2 linked regions of the Homo sapiens genome follow. The protein of the gene in region 1 interacts with the protein of each later gene in a pairwise test. Each region holds a gene or a part of one and is shown on either strand. Other genes may lie near its edges.

What was found. The genes of interacting proteins can lie anywhere in the genome.
Region 2: the proteins of GOLGA8F (region 1) and BAAT interact in binary tests that used the Homo sapiens proteins (3 or more experiments, as listed by UniProt).

The regions. Positions count from the first base shown.
Region 1 is NC_000015.10:28,381,609-28,389,084, reverse strand, and holds part of GOLGA8F (golgin subfamily A member 8F), read right to left. Parts: intron 6,696-7,476; coding exon 6,657-6,695; exon of another isoform or gene 6,384-6,656; coding exon 6,336-6,383; intron 6,248-6,335; coding exon 6,163-6,247; intron 6,068-6,162; coding exon 5,958-6,067; intron 4,939-5,957; coding exon 4,849-4,938; intron 4,743-4,848; coding exon 4,635-4,742; intron 4,440-4,634; coding exon 4,352-4,439; intron 3,961-4,351; coding exon 3,704-3,960; intron 3,437-3,703; coding exon 3,368-3,436; intron 1,997-3,367; coding exon 1,921-1,996; intron 1,484-1,920; coding exon 1,392-1,483; intron 818-1,391; coding exon 717-817; intron 635-716; coding exon 534-634; intron 445-533; coding exon 292-444; intron 207-291; coding exon 22-206; 3' UTR 1-21.
Region 2 is NC_000009.12:101,360,808-101,368,283, reverse strand, and holds part of BAAT (bile acid-CoA:amino acid N-acyltransferase), read left to right. Parts: coding exon 1-164; intron 165-5,268; coding exon 5,269-5,856; 3' UTR 5,857-7,476. UniProt on the Homo sapiens protein: Catalyzes the amidation of bile acids (BAs) with the amino acids taurine and glycine. More than 95% of the BAs are N-acyl amidates with glycine and taurine.

The sequences.
Region 1 (7,476 bases):
GCTCTTTGACGATGGTGATGTTTATCTCCTTCTTCTTGGCAGCCAAGCCCAGCAAAAGAATGGCACACAGCAGTTGCTGCCCAAGCCTGGGTGCTCCTGGTGGTCCTGCACGATCGGCTGTGCAGTAGGGTTGTCGTGGGGAGAACCCTCCCTGGCCTCTCCTTGCACAGGCTCCACGCTGTCAGTGAGGCTCACCTCACAAAGATCTTTGGAGAGAGGGAGGCGGGGATCTGAGCTCAGTGAGAGCCCCCCTGCTCCTGCCTGCCCACCCCGCCTGAGGGCTCTACTCACCACCATGCTTGTGGGCAGCCCCAAGCTCCTGGGGGGCTGGGGCTCCTGGACTGGGCTCATGAGCAGGGTTCTGGGCAGTCACCAAGAATTTGCTGTGTCCCTTGTAGTCGCCACCAGCTGCAACACCATCTCCTGCAGCTCCAGCAGCTTCACCTGGAGGGAGGGGTGCTCAGCTGTCACGCTGCTGCCAGCGCTCACCGTCACAGCCACCCCCACCCCCGCAGAGATGTTGCACACTCTACCTTCATCTCCTCCCTGTCCAGGGCCAGCCTGATGGTGTCCTCCTCCCGGTGCTGCATCTTTGGCACTGCCCCCTGGCTTTGTTATAGGGTGATAAACTTTCCTGCGGGAGGACAGGGCTCAGACGCTGGGGCCCCTCCAACAGCCCTGCAGCTCCCCCTGCCATGCCCTGGCCTCCCACTCACTGATGGCATCTCTCTCTGTAGTACTGGAAGAATCCAAGTTCTTCTTTCTCCACCAGCTCACTCAGGTCTGCCTTCTCCTCCAGGTGGTCCATAAAGCCGCTCTGGAGCCAAAATAATGGGGTCACATCTCGCCAGCGACCTGCCCTCAGGTGGCATTTTCAAGTCATGGAGAAGGCGGAGGTGAGTTCCGGCATGGGCCAGCTTCTCCGTGACTTCCTGCAGGGCCCGGTGGGTCTCCCCACTCACAGACTCGCCCCCAGGCCCTGGGGCTCCAGGGCCTCTGGCTGCCTCTGGCTCCTTCTGGGCCGAGGCCACCGGGTGAGCCAGGCGCTGGCAGCACACCCTCTGCTCTTTCACCTGCTCTTGTAACTGTGCCTGCTTCTCCTGGGCACTAGCTCCAGCGGACTTGAAAAATGCCACCTGAGGGCAAGATGTGAGCATTCTTGCAGGGGCATACACAGAACAAATGGGGCAGAGAGGTGGAGCGCAGCCCCTTCCCTTGGGGCCCCAGAGACTGCACATGTTGGTCACAGGTGAAATGGTGTCTGACCACTGGCTCCCAGAAGGGGTGAGGGTCCAGAGAAATCAGAAGGCAGGGAAACGAAGAGCATAAAGGGGTCTTGGAGGGACCACAGAGGAAGGAGGCAAAATGGGTTCAGGTGGAGTCAGGCTCACCATGGCCTCCCTGCTCTCCAGGTCCTGTGGGATGCTAGGAATGGGCCGAGGTGCCTCCTCCCCCTCACTGTCCAGATGTCCTCCTCCATCTCCTGGGGGTGGGGGTGGTGGCCAGAGGGGTCCTCAGACAACTCAACAAGGGAAGTATTGTGGGCCCACCTCTGCCTCCACCCTCATTGTGTAACCCTGAGCCAGGCCCTCCCCAGAGAGGAATGAGCTGCTGTTATTTATTTTTACTTTGAAGAACCAAGATCTTGCTATACTGCCCAGGCACATTCCCACTACTGGTCGGTGCGGGAGTTCTGACCTGCTCCCTTTCTGACCTCGGCCAGTTCAGCCATCCTTAGGCAACTTGGTGGCCCCCCGCTCACAGGAGGTCACCATATTGATGCTGAACTTAGTGCAGGCACCCGGTTAGTATAATGACCAGCTGTTCTAAAGGTCTCTTCCAACTCCTCAATCCTATGCTGCTAGCAGTCCCCCCTTCCTCCTGGGGCTCTCTCCTCTTCCTCTGAGCGGTCTCCCGTACCTTCCCCAGGGAGAGCCATGAGGCTCAACTGGGCCGTTAGCTGCTGTTTCTGCTGGCTCGCAGCTTCCAGACGCTCCTAAGGGGCCAGGAAAGAGTGAGAAGGCACAGAGTTTGCCAGGTCGTCCCCCTCACAGCCCCATCCTCGGCAGCTCCCTCCCCTGGGTCTCCTGCAACTTTTGGCAGGCCATCTCGGCCACCGCTTTGCCCCAAGCTTCCTGCTGCTGCAACTGGTTCATTAGCTGGGTCTGCTGCAGTCACTGCCTGTACAGCGCCTCCTTCTCACAGGTCAGCTGCTGATAGGCGGCCACCTGCTGCTGATAGGTGGCCACGTACTGCTGCAGGTGACCCAGGTAATGGTCTGGCTGCTGCTGCAGACTCTGAGCCTCTTGGCTCTTCAGCTCCACCTGCAGGAAGACCCTGGGTGTGAGGGCACGTGGTGGCTGGTTTGCAGATTCTGGGCCCATTAATAGGGTAGCGAGGGCACTGTGGGGCTCTGTCGCCTGCCCAGGCCCCTGGCCCCTTACTTCAGGCCTAAGTGACTGCCTTGCTTTCCTAGAACCCCATGCCTCCTTCCCCAGCCTCAAATCTCATGTCCTCTTCCCACCATTTCAACTGTAGGCCACAGAATGGTAGAAAAGTATGGGAGCCAACCACCATCTGCTAAATGTGCTACAGGCCTAATGCTTCCCATGTATTATCTCATTTAATCCTCAGCACCTCTGTAAGGAAAATGCTAACTTCCTTTTGAAGTTAAAGAAACAGAGACTTAGAGATGCGAAGTACTTGAATGGTGACCAGTGGAACTGAGGCTGGAATCCAGTTTTAATCTAAGGAGTCTTTTTGTTTTGTTTTGAGACAGAGTGTCACTCTGTGGCCCAGGCAGGAGTGCAGTGGTGCAATCTCAGCTCACTGCAACCTCCACCTCCTGGGCTCAAGCAATTCTCGTGCCTCAGCCTCCTGAGTAGGTGGGATTACAGGCATGCGCCACCACCATGCCCCACTAATTTTTCTTTCTTTTTTTGTTTTTTGTTTTTGTAATTTTAGTAGAGATGAGGTTTTACCATGTTGGCCAGGCTGATCTCAAACTCCAAACCTCAAGTGATTCTCCTGCCTCAGCCTCCCAAAGTGTTGGCACTATAGGCGTAAGCCACCGCATCTGGCATAAGAAGACTGTTATACCACTCTGTCTCTTCCCCTGTGATTGGGGGGGCTCCATGTCTCTAGCTGGAATGATGATGTCCAGACCTGGGAGGAGCCCAGGGCTACCCACCTCTAAAATCAGAGGGCAGGAAGCAAGAAACAGCCACAGGACTGCCCTGGAGGGTGCTGGGGTCACCTGCCCCCGGGCTGGAGCTACCGCTGGACTGGCACCTCCCCTCCCCAGAGGCTGGTGCCCACCCACCTCCCAGACCTTCTTGGATGGGGTGGAGGTTACCGTCTCCTTCACCTTGCCTAGCTTCTCCTGCAGCTCCTTTACTTGCTGCTCCAACTGTAGTACGCTCTTGTTCTCATTGTTCTGGACAGAGAGAAGCAATCAGCAGCCACCCACTGCAGCTGGAGACCCCAGAACTTGGTGACTGCCTCCCATGGCACCGGGAAGGGTGGAGGCAGGTTAGAAAAATCATCCCCTGTCTCCCACAGCCACCAGAGCAGGGCTCTGGCTCACAGGTGCCTTTAGGAGTAACATTTCACTTGAGGGCTACACTGCCCCATTTTATAGGTGGGGAAACAAAGGCCTGGAGGGCTAGGGAGGAGGGCAGGCTCCCCAGCTGGGGCAACGCACCAGCTCCTTGAAGCTGTTCTGTGGCTCGGCCAGCTGCTGAAGCCTCTCCTCCTGCTCTGGAAGCCTCTCCTGCTGCTCCTGAAGCCTCTCCTCCTGCTCCCGAAGCCTCTCCTTTTGCCCCTCATTCAGGAGACTTATGCGCTGATTGTACTCCACCTGGGCCTGGAGCTCTCCTGCCACTCTCTCTAGTTCCTTCCTCAGGTGCTGCAGCTCCACCTCAGAGGGCACTGCTGGGGGCTCCGGGGGCAGAGGTTCAGCTGAGAAAGGAAGCAGACAATAAGAGCCTCTGGATTCCAAAAAAAAAAAAAAAAAAAGAAAAGAAAAGAAAAAACCCTCCTCTTGGCGCACAGCTCCTCTCCGGCTCCTCAAACTTAGCCTCACTGCTAATGATTCCTCGCACCCAGATGGTAGCCAGTCTTCCAAAGCACTTTCAGAGAAAGAGCACTGCGGGTGGCTGACAACGGGCCCTCTTTGCTGATGGGGACACTGAGGCTCATTGAGATGACAAGACTTGCCGTCTCCTGGCACAGACCTCTTTCCCTCTGCCTCAAAGCCCTTCCATCCACCCACCTCGCTGGGGCACTCCAAGCCACCCTCACAGCCCTCTGATGCCAGTCCTGCTGCCAGGTCACGCCAGCCCCATCTTACCCATCTGGTGTTTGAGTTTGGACAAGCTCCTCTCCAGCTTCTCTACCCGATATTTATCATGCTTCTTCTCCTTCTTCAACGAGCAAACCTGCCCAAAGCACAGGGGGAAAGGGCCCTGGAGAGAGGGGCTGGAGGCTGGACATGCTACCATCTCCCTCTCTGCCCCCACCTCCACAAAGCCCAGTCCCAGGACCACCTCTGGCTCTACTATTCCCATTTTACAGGTGCCCAGAAAGATCCAGTGACCTATCTAATGTGGGGGGGCTGAAGGGTCAGATCTCACCTCCTGCGACATTTTTCTCATCCTCTGCTGCCACCGGGCCCTCTCTCCTTTTAGATGTTCAGCATATTCATCCCTCTCTAGCTGGACTTCTTTAAGTGACTCCTTCAACTGCAAGAATGGGCACAGAAATTAGGAAGGGCTGTCACTGGTCCTCACCTGCTCCTGGTTACCTGGGGTCATCTTTCTTCCACATCCCTCCTTCTGAACACCTCACCTGTGTCAGCTGCGCTTTCAGCAGTGCCTGCTCCCGCATGGACTGCTCTAACTTCCACTCCATACGTGCTTTACTGCGGCTGGAGAACTGCTGAAGAGTGAGAAGTTTCAATCTGGTGAGGCCGGGCCATTCCACACAGTGCCCCTTAAAAGGGCCAGGGCTAGGCCCAATATACAACTCGGTCAGTAAAGATCAAGGCATTTCCAAGCCCGTGGTTTGGTTTTTAAAGAACTCAGTAAAGTTGGAAGGGACAGGGAAAGAGATCGAATTTATAGCTGGCTAACAGAGGCCCAGAGAGATCAGATAATATTGCTATTGTTATTACTGTTATTATTACCACTGTTTGAACTTTTATGGAGTGCTTCACCAGATACCATGCTAGCAATCCCATTTAATCCTCGCAACCACCATGGGAGACAGTTACTATGATGACCTCTATTGTGTAGATGAAAAAACATGGAGTATTTGAGGTTAAGTGCTTGCCTAAGATCACTTAGGCAGAGCTGGGATTTAAACACCCAGATCTATCCAATTCTCTAAGCCCATTTTTCTTGCTGGGGGTGGGGGCACAGCTAGGAAGGGGAAAATTAATCTTTTGTTCACTTTTTGAAAGGATAATACATTCACATAGTCCCAAACTCAGAAGGTACAGAAGGGAAGTATCTCCCAGCCACCCTGTTGCTCTCTCCTGAGTTTTTATGAACACTTGCAAACATATTTTATGTATATTATCATAATATGTACACACACACACACGTTTCCTCTCTCTACAGAAATGGTAACATACTAAAGGTACTCTTCTGTACCTTCACAGTACAAGTACCCAATACCCACTGAGGACTTGGCCAAGACCACAGCCAGGTAAAGGCATGGCAGGCACTTGGCCTCCAAGCTCTACGTCCTGTGCTCTCTCCCCAGAGTGCCCCCCAACTCACCCACAGCAGCTGACTCAGTCCCAAGCTGCCGCTAACAACCATACAAAAAAGCAGTGAGAAATGGCCATGCTGCCTTCTGGGCAGGACACTCCATCCTGCAGAAGGGACCTTTAGGCTCACTCCTCTGTCTGCGAAGCCAGGCTCCCAGGGGACGGGGCAGGTGGTTGGACTCACCCTCTCCGCCTTCTTCTTCTGTGTGGCGGTGACAGCAGAGAGAGCCCGCTCTAACTCTCCTTTACGCTGCAATGAATGTTGCAGACGGACGGCCAGATCCTTGGACTCTTCTGTAATGAGAGAGTTGAGATGGGGCCCAAAGGACTCCCCCTGAAGACCTGTCAAAGTGCCAGGTTGAAGGATGACAGGGTACCCAGATTCCCACCTTCAAAGTATCTGAGAGAACGTTTCGTGTGGTACAGGTCCGTATTTAGTTTCCCTTTCTGTATGTTCAATCTCTGGATTTGAACCTTTGGGAGAAAAGCCAAGCAAGTGCTGAAAGAGAAGGAAAGAAACATTCTCCGGAGGACAGGAGAAAACTGCACACCGTCCACTCACCTCTAGCTCCCTTTCGGCTTTCTGTTTCTCGTTGTTTGCTTTCTTTTCCTGTAGGAAGAGGAAGACAGAGATCTAACCAGGCAGAGGCAGAGATGGTACTGCAAGAGACATGTCCCCAGAATGCCACCACTGCCCCTGCCCCGGGACAGGCCCACCCATGGGACCGGGTTATCAGGGACCCTGTGGGGGATGGGGTGGACTCTGGGGGGTGAGCCTTCTTCCCCAGGCTGGGAGTGGGTGAGACGAGACTCGGGGCCTCTACATCTGAGTGTCCCCCAAACCGAGCAGTCATGTCGCGAGCAAACAAAGAAATCATGTTACTTCTTCCAGCTGATGTTCCACTTGTTTATTCTGTTGTTTCTGTGGGGAGAGTCACATTAAGGTGATGGAGGGTGGCCCCCTCAACTCTATTCCCCAGAGCAGGAAGTGGTAGGCAGGGGCCAGGAATGGATTTTAAAGGCAAAGTTCTCAGACCCAGTGGGAACTCGAACTGGTAAACTCTCCTCAAGCTCCCAAGGACAGAGGATTTGGGTCTTTGTTGGCTTTTGTCCACAGCCACAGAACTCAAGGTCTGAATCTGGAATCTCTTGACAGGACAGTAACATAAACCTCTAGAGATGGAGTTTGAGAAAGGCCCCCCCTTCTGCCAGCTTGTGATTTAGAAAAGTGCATTCATTCAATAAACATTTACTGAGCACGTACGGGCCAAGTACGGTTCTTCACAGAAGATTTAGGGCGGAAAAGGACAGACAGGAGCCTTTGGCCCTGAGGTTTCCATTCTAGGAGGCCTTTAAATCTCAGACTCGAGAGCTAACAGAGACCTTTGATACTCACTACTTCCTCTGGAAACATGAGCCCAAAAAGGAGAGGTGGCTTGTCCAGAATCAAAGAGCAAATTAGGGACTGAGTCATGGCAGAAATACGGGGCCCCTGACAACTAGTCAGGCTAGCACTTCCCCAAGAGGCAACAATCCCAGGGCGTGTGTAGCAAGGACTCGAGCAGGGGCGTCTGGAGAGGGGAGAGTCAGCAAACAGGGCAGCAAAAAAAGAGCCATGCTGCATGCTCCGGGGTCCCTCCAGGTGAGGCCTGGGCGCCCCAGCTCCCTATTCGCCCTTGGCACCAGGGGCCGCCGTCCCCTTT
Region 2 (7,476 bases), on another chromosome or scaffold:
GTTTGGGTGGGCTGCTTGAATTTCGGGCCAGCCTCCTAGCCAGTCGTGGCTTCGCCTCCTTGGCCTTGGCTTACCATAACTATGAAGACCTGCCCCGCAAACCAGAAGTAACAGATTTGGAATATTTTGAGGAGGCTGCCAACTTTCTCCTGAGACATCCAAAGGTAATTTTTGTCTTTTCAGTAGGTTTGAGTCCCTGGGGTTTTTTTGTTTCTGTTTTTGTTTTTGTTAAAAGACAGGGTCTTGCTCCGTCACCCAGGCTGGAGTGCAGTGGCATGATCTGACACTTGGCCAGAAGCCAGTGCCTTTTGATACTACAATGTGCACAGGCTAACTTCCTATGCATTTTGTCTTTCTGAGCAAAAGACACTGGATGAGAAATAAATCATGTGAATTATAAATAACATGGGCATGAATAGAATTTCAAGTTCACTGAGAATCGTACTTGGAAGTTAAGAGAAGTCATAGGATATTATGGTTATTTTTTAAAAAGGGACTGGCTGGGTGTGATGGCTCAAGCCTGTAATTCTAGCACTCTGGGAGGCCAAGATGGGAGGATTAATAGAGGCCGACAGTTCAAGACCAGCCTGGGCAACATAGCCAAACTCTTTCTCTATAAATACTAAAAAAATAGCTGGGTGTGGTAGCAGGCACCTGTAGTCCCACTTACTTAGCAGGGGCTGAGGAGGAAAGATCGCTTGAGCCTGGGAGGTTGAGACTGCGGTGAGCCATGTTCCTGCCACTGTACTCCAGCCTGGGTGACAAAGCAAAAAAAAAAAAAGGATAATGCATGCAAAATGCTTATCATAGAACCTGGCAATACTAAGCACTCAAAGATGAACAAATGTTAGACAAAACTTTCTGTGATCTGACTTCTACATACTGCTTCAGCCTTATCTTATAGCTCTAATTATTAACTAGCTATCATTTTTCTCATCACTATACTTAACTGGACAGATAATCTGTATTTCTTTGAAGAATGAGTCTGAATTTTTAGTTACTCATGAGCCCTTAAACATAATACTATTAGTGCTTTCCAATCCATATGCCTTTTAAAATTTTAAAACATGTGCTTTGCTACTATGATATGGGATAGAGTTGGAGTTTATTAAACCTTGTTAATTGCCCAATATTTTTTCTTTCCTTTCCTTTTTTTTTTTTTTTTTTCTTTTTTTGACAGAGTCTCGCTCTGTCACCTAGGCTAGAGGCAGTGGCACAATCTCAGCTCACTGCAACCTCCACCTCCCAGGTTCAAGCAATTTTCCTACCTTAGCCTCCTGAGTAGCTGGGACTATAGGCGCGTGCCACCATACCTGGCTAATTTTTGTATTTTTAGTAGAGACGGGGTTTTGCCATATTGGGAAAGCTGGTCTCCAACTCCTGACCTCAAGTGATCCACCTGCCTTGGCCTCTATTTTTTTTTTTAATAAGAATTGAAATAAAATTAAATCTCCATACTACATGTTTTTTTATATAAGGATCACCAAAATATAATCAGGTTTGCAGAAATAAGATAAGCAACAATTACTGACAATCTACTGATGTAGTGAACATTTTAAATGGCTATTTTTGATGCATATAATGGAACTGCCCTCGAAATGTCAGTCAATATTATCATTGTGAGCCTTCTTCTTGGCTTAGATGAGAAGTGGAGAGGTTATGTGATTCTCTTTTTTCACGGTCTTTGCCTCGTTCCCCTTATATTTGCTGCATGACTTTTTCATCACTGTTCTTGCCAGTGTCACATAGATAGCTAGTTAATGATTAATCCAGGCCTGGAAACCAGATTTTTTTCCCCAGACTCTGAGAAATTCCATTAAACCTACTTCACATTGTCTCTTCTGCAGGATGATAGAACAGAGATCTTTCTTGCAGGTCTTATTTCTCTATGTGTTGATTTTAAGTAACTTCTAAGAACTCATAATTTCCTGATCCCAAATTTTGTGGTAGAAGTTGTAACAAGAGTTACTGTTTTGGCAAGGGACAGAAACATATTAAAAAGCCTGCACAGATATGAGTCATGCTTTTTTGTTCTTTCGTGTTATACTTGCTTTTACTTTATCTTTCATGGCCAAATCCACTCTGAGTTCCCATCTTTCCTTAACATAACTGTCGCTCTCTATCTTATATATTAAGATATAGGATTGGGAGGGGTGGGGGAGAAAGGTAGGTCAAAGGGTACAAAGTTTCTGTTAGACAAGAAGACTAAGATCTGGTGATCTGTTGCACAGCATGGTGACTATAGTTAATAATAATGTATTGTATATTTCCAAATTGCTAAAAGATTAGATTTTAAATGTTCTTACCCCAAAGAAATGGTAAGTTTGTGAGGTAATGGATATGTTAATCAGCCTGATTTGTTCATTCCACCATGTATATATGCACTGAAATATCACATTATGCACCATAAATATGTATAATTATTATTTGTCAATTAAAAATAAAAATTAGGCCAGGCACAGTGGCTCATGCCTGTAATCCCAGCACTTTGGGAGGCCGAGGTGGGCAGATCACCTGAGATCAGGGGTTCAAGACCAGCCTGGCCAACATGGAGAAAACCCAACTCTACTAAAAATACAAAAATTAGCCAGGTGTGGTGGCGGGCGCCTGTAGTTCCAGCTCGGGAGGCTGAGGCCAGAGAATTGCTTGAACCTGAGAGGCGGAGGTTGCAGTGAGCCGAGATTGAGCCACCACACTCCAGCCTGGGTGACAGAATGAGACTCAGTCTCAAAAAATAAAAATAAAGTAAAAAATAATAAATTAAAATTAAAATTAAAAAAATACAGAATTTCAGAGCTTGAAAGGAACTTTTAATTGATTCAAGCCACCCCTGTTAAATATACAGGGTAGGAAATAGAGAGTATATATGACTCATTCCATTTGTTTAGTTTTTTTTTTCCCTCTTACCCTAAGAATTTCTCACATTTTCATCAGCTTGGCATGAGTTGTATATTGATTCATGTGTTTCTAAGTAGTAGGGAAAATATCCCAAACATTGGTTTATAAAATGCCTTTAAAATATAGGAGATCAATTAAAATAAATACAGGAAGTCAACAAAGGTTTTAGAAAAGTGATGCTTCTCTCTAGGACTCTGTCCTTGCCAGGAGCCAGTGCTCAAGGAGAATCGGAGCTTTATTTTGTGACACAACAATTTTCTTTAACTCCTCCTTAGAATTCCCAACCAAATTGGTAACTGGGAGCAATACACTCAATACTCAAAAATAACTCATGAACATGTAGTTTCCTTTTCATTTTTACTGCTGTTACCTTAGTTCAGGACAGTATAATTTTCTGCTTTTATCAGTGCATTAATCTGTGGCTTTTCTGCCTCCATTTATGCAAGTCAGAGTTGTAAACACAACTATTTTACTCGCTTGCTTAAGAGTCTCCCTATTTATTATAGGATAAAGGCCAGGCTTCCTAGCATGTTAGACAAAGCTTCCTATGATCTGACTTCTGCATACTTATTCAGTCTTATCTTATGCCCATCCTTAAAATTTGTCCTAATTTTCCTCCTTAGTTAGGAAAAAAACTGAAGATGCTTAATATATCTTTCAAAGCTATGCACCATAAAGTTGGTGTTTTCTGTTTCAGACTTATTATGTTATTTCCCACCTTATACTCTAAATTAAAATAATGAAGAATGACTTGTGGTTCCTCTAAATGCCTTGCTCTTCATTGCCTCTCAGTTTTTGCATGAGTTTCTCCTATGGTGAATACATTAGGAATGTTTTGGCTACATTTCTCAGAAAAGTGGCTGATGGTGGCTTAAACATCAGCATAAGGTATCTTATTCTCTTACATAACAGGTTTGGTGATAGGTGGTTCAAACTTTGGCTTAGAAACTCAGTGTAGTTTTCAATCAAGGAGATTAGATTGACATTTCTGCAATTTTCTAGCCTTACTCTGAAGGTCACAAAATGACTCTGGCAGTTTCAGGAATTAAGTCAACAGGCCAGCATCCTAGTCTGAAAAGAATGATCATAAACATAGGCTTTCTCTTCATGATTCTGTGTCAGTTTGCACGGGGGGCAAAAAAAGTCCTTAGGTAGAATATGTTGGCCTTGGAAGAGAGGCTGAGAAAGGGAAATAGATTAGGATCCATCAGAATTTATCCCTTGGGGCTGGATATATTGCTATGCCACACAAAATCAAGGTCATATTAGCTTTGAAATTGTGGAGAATGGCTCCTGTGTAGGCAACTAACAGAGTCTGCTATACTCAGCATAGAATACCATTCCTTCTTGTTGACTTTCTTGTAATTTTTATTTCTTGAGACAGGGTCTCACTCTATTGCCCAGGCTGGGGTACAATAGCACAATCATAGCTCACTAAAGCCTTGAACTCCTGGGCTCAAGTGATCCTTCCACCTCAACCTGAGTAGCTGGGCCTACAGGCACACACCGCCATATTCAACTAATTTTTTAGTTTTGTAGAGATAGGGTCTCACTATGTTAACCAGGCTTGGCTTTCATTTTTTAATACGAAGACTCATTTGTTTTGTAGCCCATTTCCTCTGAGAGCCTTTCTTTGATCCTGCCTTTATTCCCTGCTAATCTGGGTTGGCAGTCTAGCCTACATACATTCTCATATCATAGAATTTATGATGCTCCAATCATCTGGTGTGTTTTTTTTTTTCCTCCTGTGTCTTCATCTGGCAGTGAGTTCCTTAATGACAAGAGATTGTTCCTTTTCTCTCTGTGACTCCCAGTGCTTGCCGTAGGATAGATAATTTAAGGATGCTTATTTGATGACTGACAATGAGGGAGGAAGCTGAGCCAAGCCTCCTTTATGACATTTTTCTCCACAATGAGAAAACTTTTGGAAAAAACAAAGCAAATCTAGAATCCTCTGTTCAACTCTATCCTACTGATCTCACTTTCTTTCTCAGTCTCTTCCTACAAGGTGCCCTTTCCTCTGAAGGGAGGAAAGTGTACCAATCATCTATACCCTGACCCACATTATTCACAATAGTCATGTGCCATTTCTTACTTTCCCTGCGACATTTGCATTTCTTTAGGGCATTTTAAACTCAGAACCTAACACAATACTGAATCCGTAATATATAGTCGGTAAAGCTTGACATATTTTTGGAGTATTTCTTTTGAATACATATTATATATTCCAGAACTCTATAGCTAGGGATGTGGGTAGGATTAATACTTGCTTTGTTCTCATTAGCCAGTGAAGTTCTTTGGTTGTTTGAGATTGTGGAGTTTTCCTAAATGAAGGCTAGAATAATTTCTCATTTCTATTATTTTTTTCAGGTCTTTGGCTCAGGCGTTGGGGTAGTCTCTGTATGTCAAGGAGTACAGATTGGACTATCTATGGCTATTTACCTAAAGCAAGTCACAGCCACGGTACTTATTAATGGGACCAACTTTCCTTTTGGCATTCCACAGGTATATCATGGTCAGATCCATCAGCCCCTTCCCCATTCTGCACAATTAATATCCACCAATGCCTTGGGGTTACTAGAGCTCTATCGCACTTTTGAGACAACTCAAGTTGGGGCCAGTCAATATTTGTTTCCTATTGAAGAGGCCCAGGGGCAATTCCTCTTCATTGTAGGAGAAGGTGATAAGACTATCAACAGCAAAGCACACGCTGAACAAGCCATAGGACAGCTGAAGAGACATGGGAAGAACAACTGGACCCTGCTATCTTACCCTGGGGCAGGCCACCTGATAGAACCTCCCTATTCTCCTCTGTGCTGTGCCTCAACGACCCACGATTTGAGGTTACACTGGGGAGGAGAGGTGATCCCACACGCAGCTGCACAGGAACATGCTTGGAAGGAGATCCAGAGATTTCTCAGGAAGCACCTCATTCCAGATGTGACCAGTCAACTCTAAGAAGACTAGATATTCCTAGAAAATAAAGAAGCAAATCTCTTTACCGGGACCTTCTCTCAATTTTCATGGCGGAATGTCTCCCCCAGCTGCCACACACACATTTTGTATTAATTTTAATGATTAAAAAGAGCATAGGGTAAAAACCTGATATTTCACTTATACTGCATAACAAGCTAACCAAACTGGACATGGTGAATAAATCATAAAACAAATCATTTTACTTATTATTTACATGACTTTTCTTTCCATCAGGTCTTCTAAATAGGACTGAGGTATAGTACACTGGCAAAAATAAGAAAAGGCAAACAAGAATAGCACCAAAGTAACAGATATAAAACCAAATACCATGTCAGAAAACACTATATAGTAAGAATTTATCAGATTAGAGCAGCAGGAGAAAATTAATACTAAATTATAATCATTTTAGTGATATTTTTCAACTTCACCACAGTAACTTTGCAACATCATTTTTCATTTGTGGGGTAGTAAAATTCATGTCAAAAAGGAAAGAAGGAATGGAGGAGGTCAGTTAGTTCATTGCAATAAATTACCTCTTCAGTTCTTAAAAACATGCCCATTGGCACATAACTGAGACATAATAACTAAGACTGGAAGAGCCTTGGTTTAAGTTATGAAGCAAATTAAAATGGAAAATACAAGAAAATAGAACCAATTAGGTTGAAAATGCCCCTTACTGAAAATCTGTATTAAAAATAAAATTAATAAAAGTAAAAAATAAAAATAGAAACACAACTCTACTAGTACAGGCTAGCCTGGGGAGTTTGATAAACTGAGTGATTGGGTCAACTATCACTGTACTTCCATAATGAATTTCTTCAGTCATGTTAGAGTAGCACATGAATGTGAGCTCTATAAGGACAGGTACTATATTTCCGTAAGACCCAATAGTTACTGTACATCCCATAAATAAAAAATACTTTAGTTTGCTAACCAACTGAATATATGAGGACTGCATGTAATTCAACCACATGGTTGTTTGCTGTACAGTCCTTTGCAAATATTAAAAAATTTTTTTTGCTATAAGGCTTTGATCATATAGTCCTCATAGCAACATAACTACCATCTAGCATGTACCACATTTTGCAAGACTTTAAGTTCAACATTCCAAACTGCCAATTTGTATTATGTCCAAATGCAGTATCCTTGAGGAATATAGTGGGTCAGTTAAATATCTAGAGACATACAAACATCTGCTAATTCATCTCATTGAGATGGATCATTCTGATCTCCATCATCCACCCACTTTTCATCAGCTTCTCCTACTTCATTCTCCTCATAGTCTTTATCATGAGGGATTCTGTATCCTGTCTCTCATCTACACTTGCTGGCCTTCCTGGTTGTGATTTATTGGAACAGTCTACACAAAAACCATAGGGTCAAGATCCATGTCTTACTCCAACACTGGCTGCTAACATGATCTTACATACCATACATTTGCATTTTTATCCTTCTTGTGCACCAAGAAATGTTTTCTTACATGTTTTCTCCAAGTGTAAAAAGTCACAGCTAAATGATCTCACTCCTGTATGAATAAGCAAGTGCTTTTTTAGTGTTTGTTTGCATTTGGCTGCATAGCTACAATGATGGCATTTTAACTTA